2 linked regions of the Homo sapiens genome follow. The protein of the gene in region 2 purifies or fractionates together with the protein of the main gene of each other region. This does not show direct contact. Each region holds a gene or a part of one and is shown on either strand. Other genes may lie near its edges. The genes, in order: RRN3 and POLR1F.

Region 1 (7,297 bases), on a different chromosome or scaffold from region 2:
TCACTGTGTTGCCCAGGCTGGTCTCCAGCAATCCTCTGGCCTTGACCCCCTAAAGTGCGGGGATTACACGCACGAACGACTTGCCACTTACTATCTCACTGTGACCTGGAACCAGAAAGGAGATTCCGAGAGTGTGCTCAATCAATCACAAACTGACCTTTTTCATGGGTTTCTTGAACTCCTGTAGCTCTTCAGCACTCATGTCTTCCCACACCTGATAAATAGGATCAATGAATTTCTTTGACCTGTCAACAAAGATCACATTTCAAAGTCAAGTTAAATACTTCGGCAGAAGTCAAAATTGGTTTGGATCTTTTCTCACAAGATCTATTACCCAAAACCAAGAAGTGAAAACTACAGCTTAAATAATTACATTTAAAAAAAACCTGGCTGGGTGCAGTGGCTCACGCCTGTAATCCCAGCACTTTGGGAGGCTGAGGTGGGCAGATCATGAGGTCAGGAGATCGAGACCATCCTGGCTAACACGGTGAAACCCCATCTCTACTAAAAATACAAAAAATTAGCCGGGTGTGGTGGCGGACACCTGTAGTCCCAGCTACTCGGGAGGCTGAGGCAGAATGGCCTGAACCTGGGAGACGGAGCTTGCAGCGAGCCGAGATCGCGCCACTGCACTCCAGCCTGGGAGACAGAGCAAGACTCTGTCTCAAAAAAAAAAAAAAAAAAGAAAAAAACAAAACAAAAAAACAACCCTCTATGTAAATGCTGTAACTAATGTGGCTCTTTCTGTATAAGAGTTCATTCACTCATGTCGATGGAGTATTGAACTACCGTTTTTCATCTTTCCATTTTCATGTGAAATTGTTTCTAAACTTTACAAAGACTCACAAGTCAGTTAGATACAGTATATCCAAATGGAAATGAAACCGTAATATTCTGGAACTCTCTTTTTTATATTTCTGTAGTAATTTGCTGAAAAGTAAGTCTAGGAAAAACAACTAATCTGGTTTCAGTCAACCAAGACTTCAGGGACCAGACAATCCCAGATGGTCATGATGCTGCTAGTTATTTTAGAAACCATAATAAGCAAAAATCCTGCTTCCTTATACAAGTGCCAAGTTAAGGCTGGCCCAGTGGTTTTCTAGAACAACTCATCTAGATAAATCGCTTTTTGTTTTTTTTTTGTTTTGTTTTTCTGAGACAGAGTCTCACTCTCTCGCCCAGGCTGGAGTGCATTGGTGCAATCTCGGCTCACTGCAACCTCCACCTCCCGGGTTCAAGAGATTCTCCTGCCTCAGCCTCCCGAGTAGCTGGAATTACAGGCGCCACCACCACACCCAGCTAATTTTTGTATTTTTAGTAAAGACAGCGTTTCACCATCTTGGCTAGGCTGGTCTTGAACTCCTGACTTCAAGTGATCCGCCCGCCTCAGCCTCCCAAAGTGCTGGGATTACAGGCATGAGCCATTACGCCCAGCCAATCGTTTGTTTTTCGTTTATCCTGTGCAACAGAATGGTATGTGGTCTCTAGAGGAAGGAACAAGACACTTGGCAGAAAATTATGAAGCAAGAAAAGACAGCACCCTCCCCTATCCTGGCACCATTATCCCCATTAACCTTACATGTTTAAATAACAGTTTAAAGAAAAACAAAAAACAAAAAACCCTTGATGTCAGTCTGGCTCCTAGTGAGGCAAAGATCTACCCACTCTGGGGTGCCTGCGCCACTCGGCAAGTCCTGCTAGGCATCCTCTACTTTGCATCTGGTGAAATATACGCAGGGAGACCACGAGATGCTCATCAACAGCGAGGAAGGGCCACTTCTGGTGAAGAGCCCTAAATCCCAATTTTGGGAAAAGCAAACATGTATCACGTTTAAATCCACCTCCTGGCCGGGCGCGGTGGCTCACGCCTGTAATCCCAGCACTTTGGGAGGCCGAGGCGGGCGGATCACGAGGTCAGGAGATCGAGAACATCCCGGCTAACACAGTCAAACCCCGTCTCTACTAAAAATACAAAAAATTAGCCAGGCGTGGCAGTGGGTGCCTGTAGTCCCAGCTACTCGGGAGGCTGAGTCAGGAGAATGGTGTGAACCCGGGAGGCGGAGCTTGCGGTAAGCCGAGATCACACCACCGCACTCCAGCCTGGGCGACAGAGTGAGACTCCGTCTCAAAAAAAAAAAAAAAATCCACCTCCTCCAGCGTCAATGTTTAAAAGTACCTACCTCTTCAGCACACAGGGATCAAAGGGGAAGAAGGTGTCCAGCGGGTTTGTGCAGATCTGCACTGAGTCTCCTCCAGCGGTACTCCTAATGACTGGCAGCATCTGGCGATTGTTCCTCTCAATGATGGTGTAGCAGAAGACGAGCTGGTACTTACTGTGGAACAAAAAAACAACACAGACAGAGGCATTAACATGCTGGAGTGACTCGGTGCAGATGTGAGCTGCGTGTGACAACTGTACCTACCACAGAGAAATTGCTGAATATAACAAGTGCTAGTAAAAATAACAATATAAAGCAGAAAGTAACACTTTTAGGGTACCGTTCTATGGGTCTTCTATTTGCAAGTTTGCTAAGGAGAAAGAAAACGTGGCTATCACTCAGAATGTGAAACTGGGCTTATATTTTAATGAGTAATAGATATTATTCATTATATTTTAATGAGTAATAGATACTATTCATTAAAAATAAATGTTTGCAAGGCAAAACTCTTAGATTACGTAACTATAGGTGTCTTTATTTTTACTGTTTGCAAAAGAATTAGAAGGTTGGTGGTAAAGGGATTCAGGAGTTACTCAGGAGGAAATAGTGGTTGGTGAAGAGACTTGCTGAAGAAGCACTGAAAAAGAAATAAGCCTTTACTGAAGGAGGGACACGGGGTTGACTAAGTCATGACCTCAAAAACAGGCACAGAAAGGACTAGGCATGCCGAGTGAGAACAGTTAAATGCATAGAAGAAAACATAAAATAAAGACAATTATGTTTTTAATTTTTCCAGTAGTTGTCTCTAAATGATTGAGCAACTTGAAAAATTATCTATTGGACAGCTTCTCCAAGATGAGGACTCAGATCTCACTTCTGTCACTCTCCATCTCAGGTTCTCAGGTCACCATGGCAACTTCAAGCCACATACTTTGATTTCTGTCCTGTTAGCCAAGGCTCACAGCACTTGACCCCTCCTCCTGGTGGAGGACACATCAGCAAAACCACACTGGAGGGTGGTTTGCACTATCAGGTAAAGTTGAAGATCTGCATCTCCTACAACCCCGCAGCTGACCGCACTTCCGGGTGTGTGACAAGGAAGCATGTGCCCACACACAAGAATGTTCCTGAGCACTAAAACACTAACACAGCCGGCTGGGCACGGTGGCTCACACCTGTAATCCCAGCACTTTGGGAGGTTGAGGCAGGCGGTTCACTTGAGCTCAGGAGTTTGAGACCAGCCTGGTCAACATGATGAAACCCCATCTCTACTAAAAATACAAAAATTAGCTGGGCGTGGTGGCAGGCGCCTGTAGTCCCAGCTATTCGGGAGGCTGAGGCAGGAGAACTGCATGAGCCTCGGAGGTGGTGGTTGTAGTGAGCTAAGATCACGCCACTGTACTCCAGCCTGGGTGACAGAGCAAGACCTTGTCTCAAATAAAAAAAAAAAAAAAGACAAAAACTAACAGATGAAATCCCAACAAAGACTCAATAAAAAAGATTCCCAGAACATAACACAGCAGTTAAAATCAAAATAAAGCTTTGTGTCAATATGGTTCAATCTCAAAAGCATCAAGCAGGCAAAAGCAACAGCTACAGAATGGTACACGCCTTTATTTACCATATCTGTACCTAGGCAGAGACTTTTATTTCAATCCCCTGCTCTTAGCCTCACATCGCATCACACTCTGTGCCTCCAATGCGCATGCCAACCCCAAATCGAGAGCCCCTGGACCAGATGGTTCACAAATGCAGTCCTCTGTCCCCACCCCGAGAACATACCAGGGGCAGCGGCCTCTGCTTTGCTTCATCCATCCTCACTCTTTGAGCTGCTCACCATCTTAACCAACGTGCTGAAGCCTCCACCCACTCACTGCCGTTGCTTATTGGTCTCTTTATGCCTTTTCCTAATCCTTTACTATCACTGAGACTCAGAAGAGAGGACACCTTGAACCAGACGCCTAGCAAAGGAGAACTAAAGAGGCTGACGGAGCTCAGCAAGCTGTTGGCTCTTATCTGTTGAAGATTTTAAGCTATGATCCGGCCTAAATATCCTCATTGAATATTCAATTCTCCAATTCGCTTTCTCCATAAAGCAGAATAACTTAGTGAAAGCTTACAAAGGAGCCAGACTACATTTAAATCTGTGCTGCCAGTCTAGCTCTATGACTTTAGGCAAGTGATTTCACCTCTCTGTACCTCCACCTCCCTGTTGATAAACAGGGTTTCATCCTAGAGGATCAAATGAGTTCTATGTAAAGTGCTTAGAACTGCCTGGCACAGAGGAAAGGCTATGGATTAGCCATAGCTACCAGACCTGAGAGAACAGAACTCTCTAAACCAATCTCTTACAGGTCAACATTTGCCTCATGTCCAGTTTATTTCTATTACTATTACAGGAGTCACTCTAATAAGCATCTATGGCTTTGCCCCTCTCAGCTTACTGGTTGCCATACTTATTTCAAAGTGCTGCCCTTTGGATAAGAAGTAGTAGTAATTTCCAACGCCATCAAAGTATAAAAACAATAGCTGTATCACAGTATTTCCTGCAAGGACTGGGTTGTTTTTGTTTGTTTAAGAGACAGGGTCTCATTCTGGAGCCCAGACTGGAGTGCAGTGGTACAATCAGGGCTCACTGCATCCTTGACTTCCTGGGCTCAAGTGATCCTCCTACCTCAGCCTCCTGAGTAGTTGGGACTACAGGCACAGGCAACCACACCCAGCTAATTTTTAAAATTTTTTTGTAGAGATAGGGTCTCACTATGTTGCTCAGGCTGGTCTTTTAACTCCTGGCCTCAAGCAATCCTCCCACCTCAGCCTCCCAAAATGTTGAGATTACAGGTGTCAGCCACCACGCCTGGCCTTTTATAATGTTACTAATTTCATAGAAATTTAACACTCTTACAATACTAGATAAACATAAATAAAAATATTTTAAATAACTCCCATCAAGAAAGCGTAAATAACTTACTTTGTGATTGCAGCAAAAAAGTTAACCACTGAGGGCAGGCAAATCTTCAGGGGATTTAGCTGGCTCATCACTATCCGCTCAAAATTCAGACTCTGAAGATACTGCAAACCTTTGGTTTAAAAAAAAAAAAGATTTTTTTAAAGGTACAAATAAGTGAAAAGTGTAAGATACTTTTAAAAGCACAAATTATCACACATTTAAAAAAAACTTTAAAAAATTATTTGCAGAAATGCTTTAAATAAAGGTCCATGCAGATAGTCACACAGTATATGGCCCAGAAGAGTATCACTAGGCTAACCACATTCATTGGTCACCAAGGCAGCTTCTCTAAAGAAAACTTAGGAAGTAGCAGGCTGTAAGATTCCACGACAATGTGAAATTCATATGTTTGCAAGCTCAGTGTATGCTGAGATAATACAGAGGGAGAAAAGACCTTGTGATTTGGTTTCAGCTAACAATCATGACAGGCAACAAAACAAAACAGCAATTTGATTCTAGCTTGCATGTCTTGTTAGTGAAGCTGAGTGCTGTTTTCAGGTGCACAGTAGTCATCTGTAGTTTTTTTTCTAAACAAGAAAACTCCAAATTTGCCTTCTACCTCAACGGACGGCAAATTTAGACAGAAACCACTTTCTTAGACTTAATGAATATAATTCTTTTCTACATGAGTAAAATAAAGACATCACATTTATTTTAAGAGGCAAGCTGACCAACTTGTACTTAAGTATATTTTCTTAGGAGTTTCTTTGATACGTATTTCAATAAAAATTACCTAAATGGGATGTCACAGCTTACAAAAACAAGATATTTAATCCAGATTCCTGGCATTAATTTATACAAAGAAAAGCAGAGCTTGTATTTACTTACCTTGTGATAAAACCTCATCCTACTAGTTCATACAACATCTTTTAGAAGCATGTAGGATGTAGGTAAACATATATAATGCAACACATACAACTTTCAGTTTAGAGCTGTGGCTGTTAACCCAAGGAGACTGCGACCCCCGCAGAGGACACCTGGCAGTATCTGGAGACACTTTTAGTTGTCACAGCTGGGGGTGGTCGGGGACTGCTGTTGGCAGCTAGTAGGTGGAGGCTGTTAAACATCCTACAGTGCAGAGGACAGCCCCCGACGATGAAGGATGATGCAGCCCAAATGGCAATCGTGCAGGGTTCAGAGACCCCGGTTTAGAGGAAGTGACCCACAAAACCATAAGAATTATTCATAAACATAAACAGAACAATTTACAATGACTTATAAACACTGTTCTTGGAGACTCTCTTCAACTAAAATACACTAATCTAATAAGTTTCAACTGACAGATTTGAATTATAAGTAACTCTTAGAAATTAGCAAAACAATACTGGTCAATTAAGTCTCAAGGCTTCAGGCAGAGTTTAATCTATATAAACTCAAACTTTAGGGTCAGCCAAACCTGGCTTCAGTTTTCTAATCCTGCCACTAACCATGTGATCTTGGGAAAATGACTTTCCTGTGCTTTAGTGCTGTCTGTAAAGGGAGAATACCTGCCATTTACTGGGCTGTTACAAGGACAACAAAGAGAAGGTGCATCCAACTGAAGCTTTGTACAGGGCGCTGGCACAGCCCAGGGCTCAGCCTCACCTCTGGAGACATCTTCACATTTCAAACTTTCAAAGGCAGAAACCTCTTTCTTAACCTCAAATCCATCTTAAGGGGTTTGTAGGGTTCTCAAGCTCAAATCTATCTTAAGGGGTTTGTAGGGGCCTATGAGCTGCTTGAAATTATTATTAAAAGTTTGAGTGCACATGCAGTTTTCTGAATCCAGTTTTTATAAAAATCTCAAAAAAGTAATGAATCACCATTCTGAAGGGTGACAAGAACACAAGGAAAATCCAGTCCAGCACTCCCACAACACTGACCTTCTTTCAGGTTTCCGCTCAAAAGCTGCTTGTGTCTAAAAACAAAGGTGTAGAACACAGCTTGGCAGGCTGAGTAAAATGGTCCATGGAGAGCAACATCGCAGAATGCCTTTGTTCCCGAATCCTGGTTATTAAGGTATATGTGCAGCCAGTTAACCAAAAGATCTAGGCATGATTTTACAGTACTAGAGAAAAGAAAAATTCAAGTCAACTTTACACATCATAAAAAAACCAGAATAACATAAAAACACACAACTGCCTTTCAT
Region 2 (4,374 bases):
TTCATATGGGAAGACATTTACTATAAAATAGAGTAGACCCAAAAAGTGCAGGTAGTTTGATTCCATGTCTTAAAACATTTTAAAATTCACTACTTAAAAATCTCTAAAACTACACATGGAATTGACAATAGTGGTTATTTCTGGAAGCAGAATTGCCAAGTGGGTGTGTGTGGTGTGGGGAGGAATAGGGAGGGAGATCAATGACTGGTAGAGTGGGAAGATGTATATACTTTTACTATATGAATTTTTAAACAAATATATATTGATTTTGTAACAAAATATCTACTTTTTGAGAAAAAAAGGCAAAGATGACCCATGTGGTGAATGTATAAAACAAATTAAAAGAGATCAAATTTCTGTCATTTTTAAGTATTCTATCCCTGACACACTAAAGTGATAAAAGTGCTTAAAAACCACATTACATATAGGCCAAAAAAAAAAAAAAAGATGCATTTATTGAAACAAGTGAAAATAATAATATCACATCAGAGGCCAAGTGATACCATTTGAAACTGTGCTTTTTATTTATCAATTTAAAATTATCTGTTGATGCTTTCATTATACAAAGGATTCACTGTTAAATACTATAGATATAGTTAAGGCATAATTCCAGCCCTCAGGAAACTTATTTGGTCAAGACAAATTTGATTAAGAGACAAGCTTTACAAACAGGTAAACAGTTTGAAATAATGCACAGTGTTACAAGTAGAAAAATATTTATTAAAGAAAAATAAGAATTATGGTTATGAAGCATGCACATTTAGCCTTGTCTGGAAAAAGTTTATGCGAAGGTGGTGCCTGAGGTCTTTTACATTAGATAACTTCTTAGTCCTCTGTCAGGTTCTCCACCTGGAATGCCACAGCTAGTTTTTCTTCTCCAAGGGTCAAAATGCTGCTCTTCCAACAACAAGCTTAAACACTAAACGTAAAGCATTAAACATTCATTGTTATTTGTACTTGTCATTTATACTTGTGTATCTTATAGACAAAACGGTAAGCCCTTAAGAGCAGAAACTGCTTAAAAGTCATTTCTGTATCACTGGTGACTAGTGAGGTGTCTTGCACAGTGAAATGGGTGAATGATAGGAACTGGAGAGAGGGTAAGGGATCTAGTCTAGGCTATAGGGTTTGTATGAGCAAATTCCAAGATAGAAAAGATAGACTAGGTTAGTGCAGCATGTGCCAAATGTTTTGAAGAATACATAGTGGACACCATCATCAGTCTTTCTGTGTCAGAAAGACAAACAAAAAAAACAATGAACAAAGTTATGCTATTCTAGGAAAGACAAATGGCCAGATCTGACTTTTCAAAACTACTCACATTGTGAAAAAAGCAGGAACAAATCTAGTTTCAAGTTCAGCATGCCGTTCCCTGTTTAATTCATAAAACACAACTGGCAGAAGTATTACTTGAAGCAAAACAAAAGTAACGTGGGAACTTGCTTATTTGCTAAGCCACAATGTATTTTTCCAGGAATAGCATAAATTTGCCATCTTTCTTGTGTCTATGGAAAAGGGGTTTAGAATTGTTTCACTAAAAATTAAATTTCTATATTGTCAAACATGATTGTATACTCAAATTTTAAAATGTGAAGGGAACACTTACTAAGCATTTCCTGGGTATGCCACTATATTAAGTCCTAGTAATATGATATAGTTTATTTCAATTTTTTTTCAACTCATACTTCCTTTAAAATAGCACTGACCAAAAGAAAGTTAACATGAGCTTCATGTACAATTTTTAATCTTTTTGCAGAAAAATAAACTGAGAAAGGCTAAAATTGTTTTATTTAAGCCACTATACCAAGACATATTGATTTCACCAATATAAAAATTGAGATAGTTTACATTTTTTGGTACATCTTTAAAATCTGGTATGTATTTTATACTGACAGCACATCTCAATTTGGACAAGCTACATTTCCAGGGCTCAATAGTCACATGAATCTCAATTGTAATCAAAGAGGTTGGCCTGCATCCTTCCATTGTCTAGCACATCTACTTGTAGACAATTGTGAACATCTGCCACTCTGCCAATTCTATATCCCATCATTGTAAGTTCAGATCAACATATACCACTAGCAGAATTTATTCATTACCAAATATTAAGCTGTGAGACCAGCACTATGTCTGGTACTAAATAAATGGCAACAAAAATGCTGACATGGGAGTTCAACCATTCATGCATTTGCAGATACTAACACAGGTAACAGTGAGTGAACAATCCTCCCCCTTTTTTTCATACCACTTAATACAATTATTAATTTTCTTATTTATTGTGTGTATATGCACATCTGTTTCTCTTATGACATGCCACAAGGGAAGGAACTACATCTATCTTGTTTGCCATTGTATCCCTGGGCCTTAGCAGAATGTGTTATACAAAGTAGATGGTCAAGTGTGTGGAAAATGAATAAATATGGCCATGCATTGATTACCAGCTTCAACCAGCTTGTCATTTCATTACACTTTGTCAATTAGTCAAGAGACATTCCACATTTTCTCAATGAAAGCAGTGAACAGAACAACTGTTTTCTCTTCAGCACAATATCTTATAGCCCATTCCAATCATTAAAAAGTAATCTGAAATTTCCCACTAGTCAGAATCACATTTATCCTGTCTTCATTAGACTGTCCTCCAACACACAACAAAACTAGAATGGCTGAGGCACAAATGAACAAGTACAAGAAAACAGTCCTTTCCAGCAACCTCTCAGACTTAAGAAGACAAGGACACACATGCACTTGGAAGAAAGAAAAGAAAATAATGAATAGCATTTACCACCACACAGTCAGTACTGGCCTGGCTTTTAAGAGCTGTGAAGACTTCAGAAACTTCTTTGGCAAACTATTTTATGTTAAACAATAGAAATACTGTAGAAAGCCATGATAAAGGAAAACCTAAAATTAGTTAATGTCCTGAGTTTTTAAAAAAGCAAAATAAAATAGCATGTAATAAGGTGAAGCCTATTAAACACACACAAAATCAAATCATCAAAATCTCAAACTTAACTCATTCTTTAGTAATATAATATTGTATTATAAAGTCCTTTGGCTAGTCTTGACATTGTAGAAATAATTTTATGTAGAGTGCAAAACCTGGAAGAATATGAGAGCTGACAGTGAGAGCAGCTTTTTATTTTGTATAAAATGGTATTTTAACAATACTGGCTTTCCCCAAATTAATTTACAGTCAGTTTTATCATTTTTAGCATATAAAGCCTCCTACTCCTAGTTAAGTATTTTCTGTTTTGTAAACTACTGGCATACTTAACCTTTTCATATCACTGAAAACATTTATTCATCTATTGTATGTAGATCGATCTTTTAAAAACTGAATCGTGTTTAAAATACACTAAAGAAAATTACTTTTCCCTTTTCTTTTTGGTGAGCATTTCAAAGGTGGGGTAAATTCGGCCTCTTCACTGTGTTTTCTTTTCTTTTTTTTCTTTTTATGGTCACTTTGGTAACCACTGGAGTCACTGCCTTGGAAAACAGGGTCCTGGTCCTGAACTTCCTGGTGCTTTTTCTTCTTCTTCTTTTTCTTTGGCTCCTCCTCCCAGATGCCATTCGCATTATTAGTATTCTGCAGGGCTGACTCTTCCATTGGAGTGTCATCTGCATCATCTGCTAGCTTTGTGGTACCACTGTCCACTTCATATGTCTCTGGGTCTTTCTTCTTTTTCTTCTTTTTAGGTTTTTTAGCAGCTTCCTCAGTGCCATTTTCTGTAACTTCTTCAGAAACTTCAGAGCGCTTGAATTGTAAACTATAAATTAACAGTTAAAAAAATTAACAGAACAATAAGCAAAAAACAAAGAACAAATTGAGATCAAGATATCCCAACAGGCTAAGATTTTCTAAATAATGACTCCAGTACAAGACACATAACCATGGCATAAATTCCAAATATTCTATCCTGTTATCCCTCAACCCACTAAAATATGTATGGGCTGCTGAATGTTAAATTGAAAAATGTTAAATTTAACATTAAATGTTAAATTCTTTCTTTATGAATAACTTCTCCCAGACTGTTTCCACACATAAAAATGACATAAAAATCTTGTCAAAACATGTCTTCCAAGTTTTGGGTTGTTTCAGAAAAATTTGGTCACTGAACATTAAACACCACAATACCTAGGCTTATTAACCAAACCACTGACATCTAATAGAAAATATGATCTGGTATTTATCAAAGCAATGGAGTTTCCAGTCTACTATTTTAATCTTGTTTCAAATAATAGTCCATTGTTCTACTTAGCTGATACTAAGATAGTATTACTTTAACATTGTGAATTATTTTACACCACTAAAATAAAACATGGATCGATGAAGTAGCTTTCTCTCCAGAACTTCAGTCTTATACAGTAGCACTA

The links.
Region 1: the proteins of POLR1F (region 2) and RRN3 purify together in Homo sapiens (affinity purification with mass spectrometry; 3 studies listed by BioGRID and IntAct, with this or other methods). This does not show direct contact.

What each region holds. Positions count from the first base shown.
Region 1 is NC_000016.10:15,063,039-15,070,335, forward strand, and holds part of RRN3 (RNA polymerase I-specific transcription initiation factor RRN3), read right to left. Parts: intron 7,217-7,297; coding exon 7,032-7,216; intron 5,240-7,031; coding exon 5,131-5,239; intron 2,334-5,130; coding exon 2,181-2,333; intron 246-2,180; coding exon 158-245; intron 1-157. UniProt on the Homo sapiens protein: Required for efficient transcription initiation by RNA polymerase I (Pol I). Required for the formation of the competent pre-initiation complex (PIC).
Region 2 is NC_000007.14:19,694,961-19,699,334, forward strand, and holds the end of POLR1F (DNA-directed RNA polymerase I subunit RPA43), read right to left. Parts: intron 3,768-4,374; coding exon 3,356-3,767; 3' UTR 501-3,355; downstream 1-500. UniProt on the Homo sapiens protein: Component of RNA polymerase I (Pol I), a DNA-dependent RNA polymerase which synthesizes ribosomal RNA precursors using the four ribonucleoside triphosphates as substrates.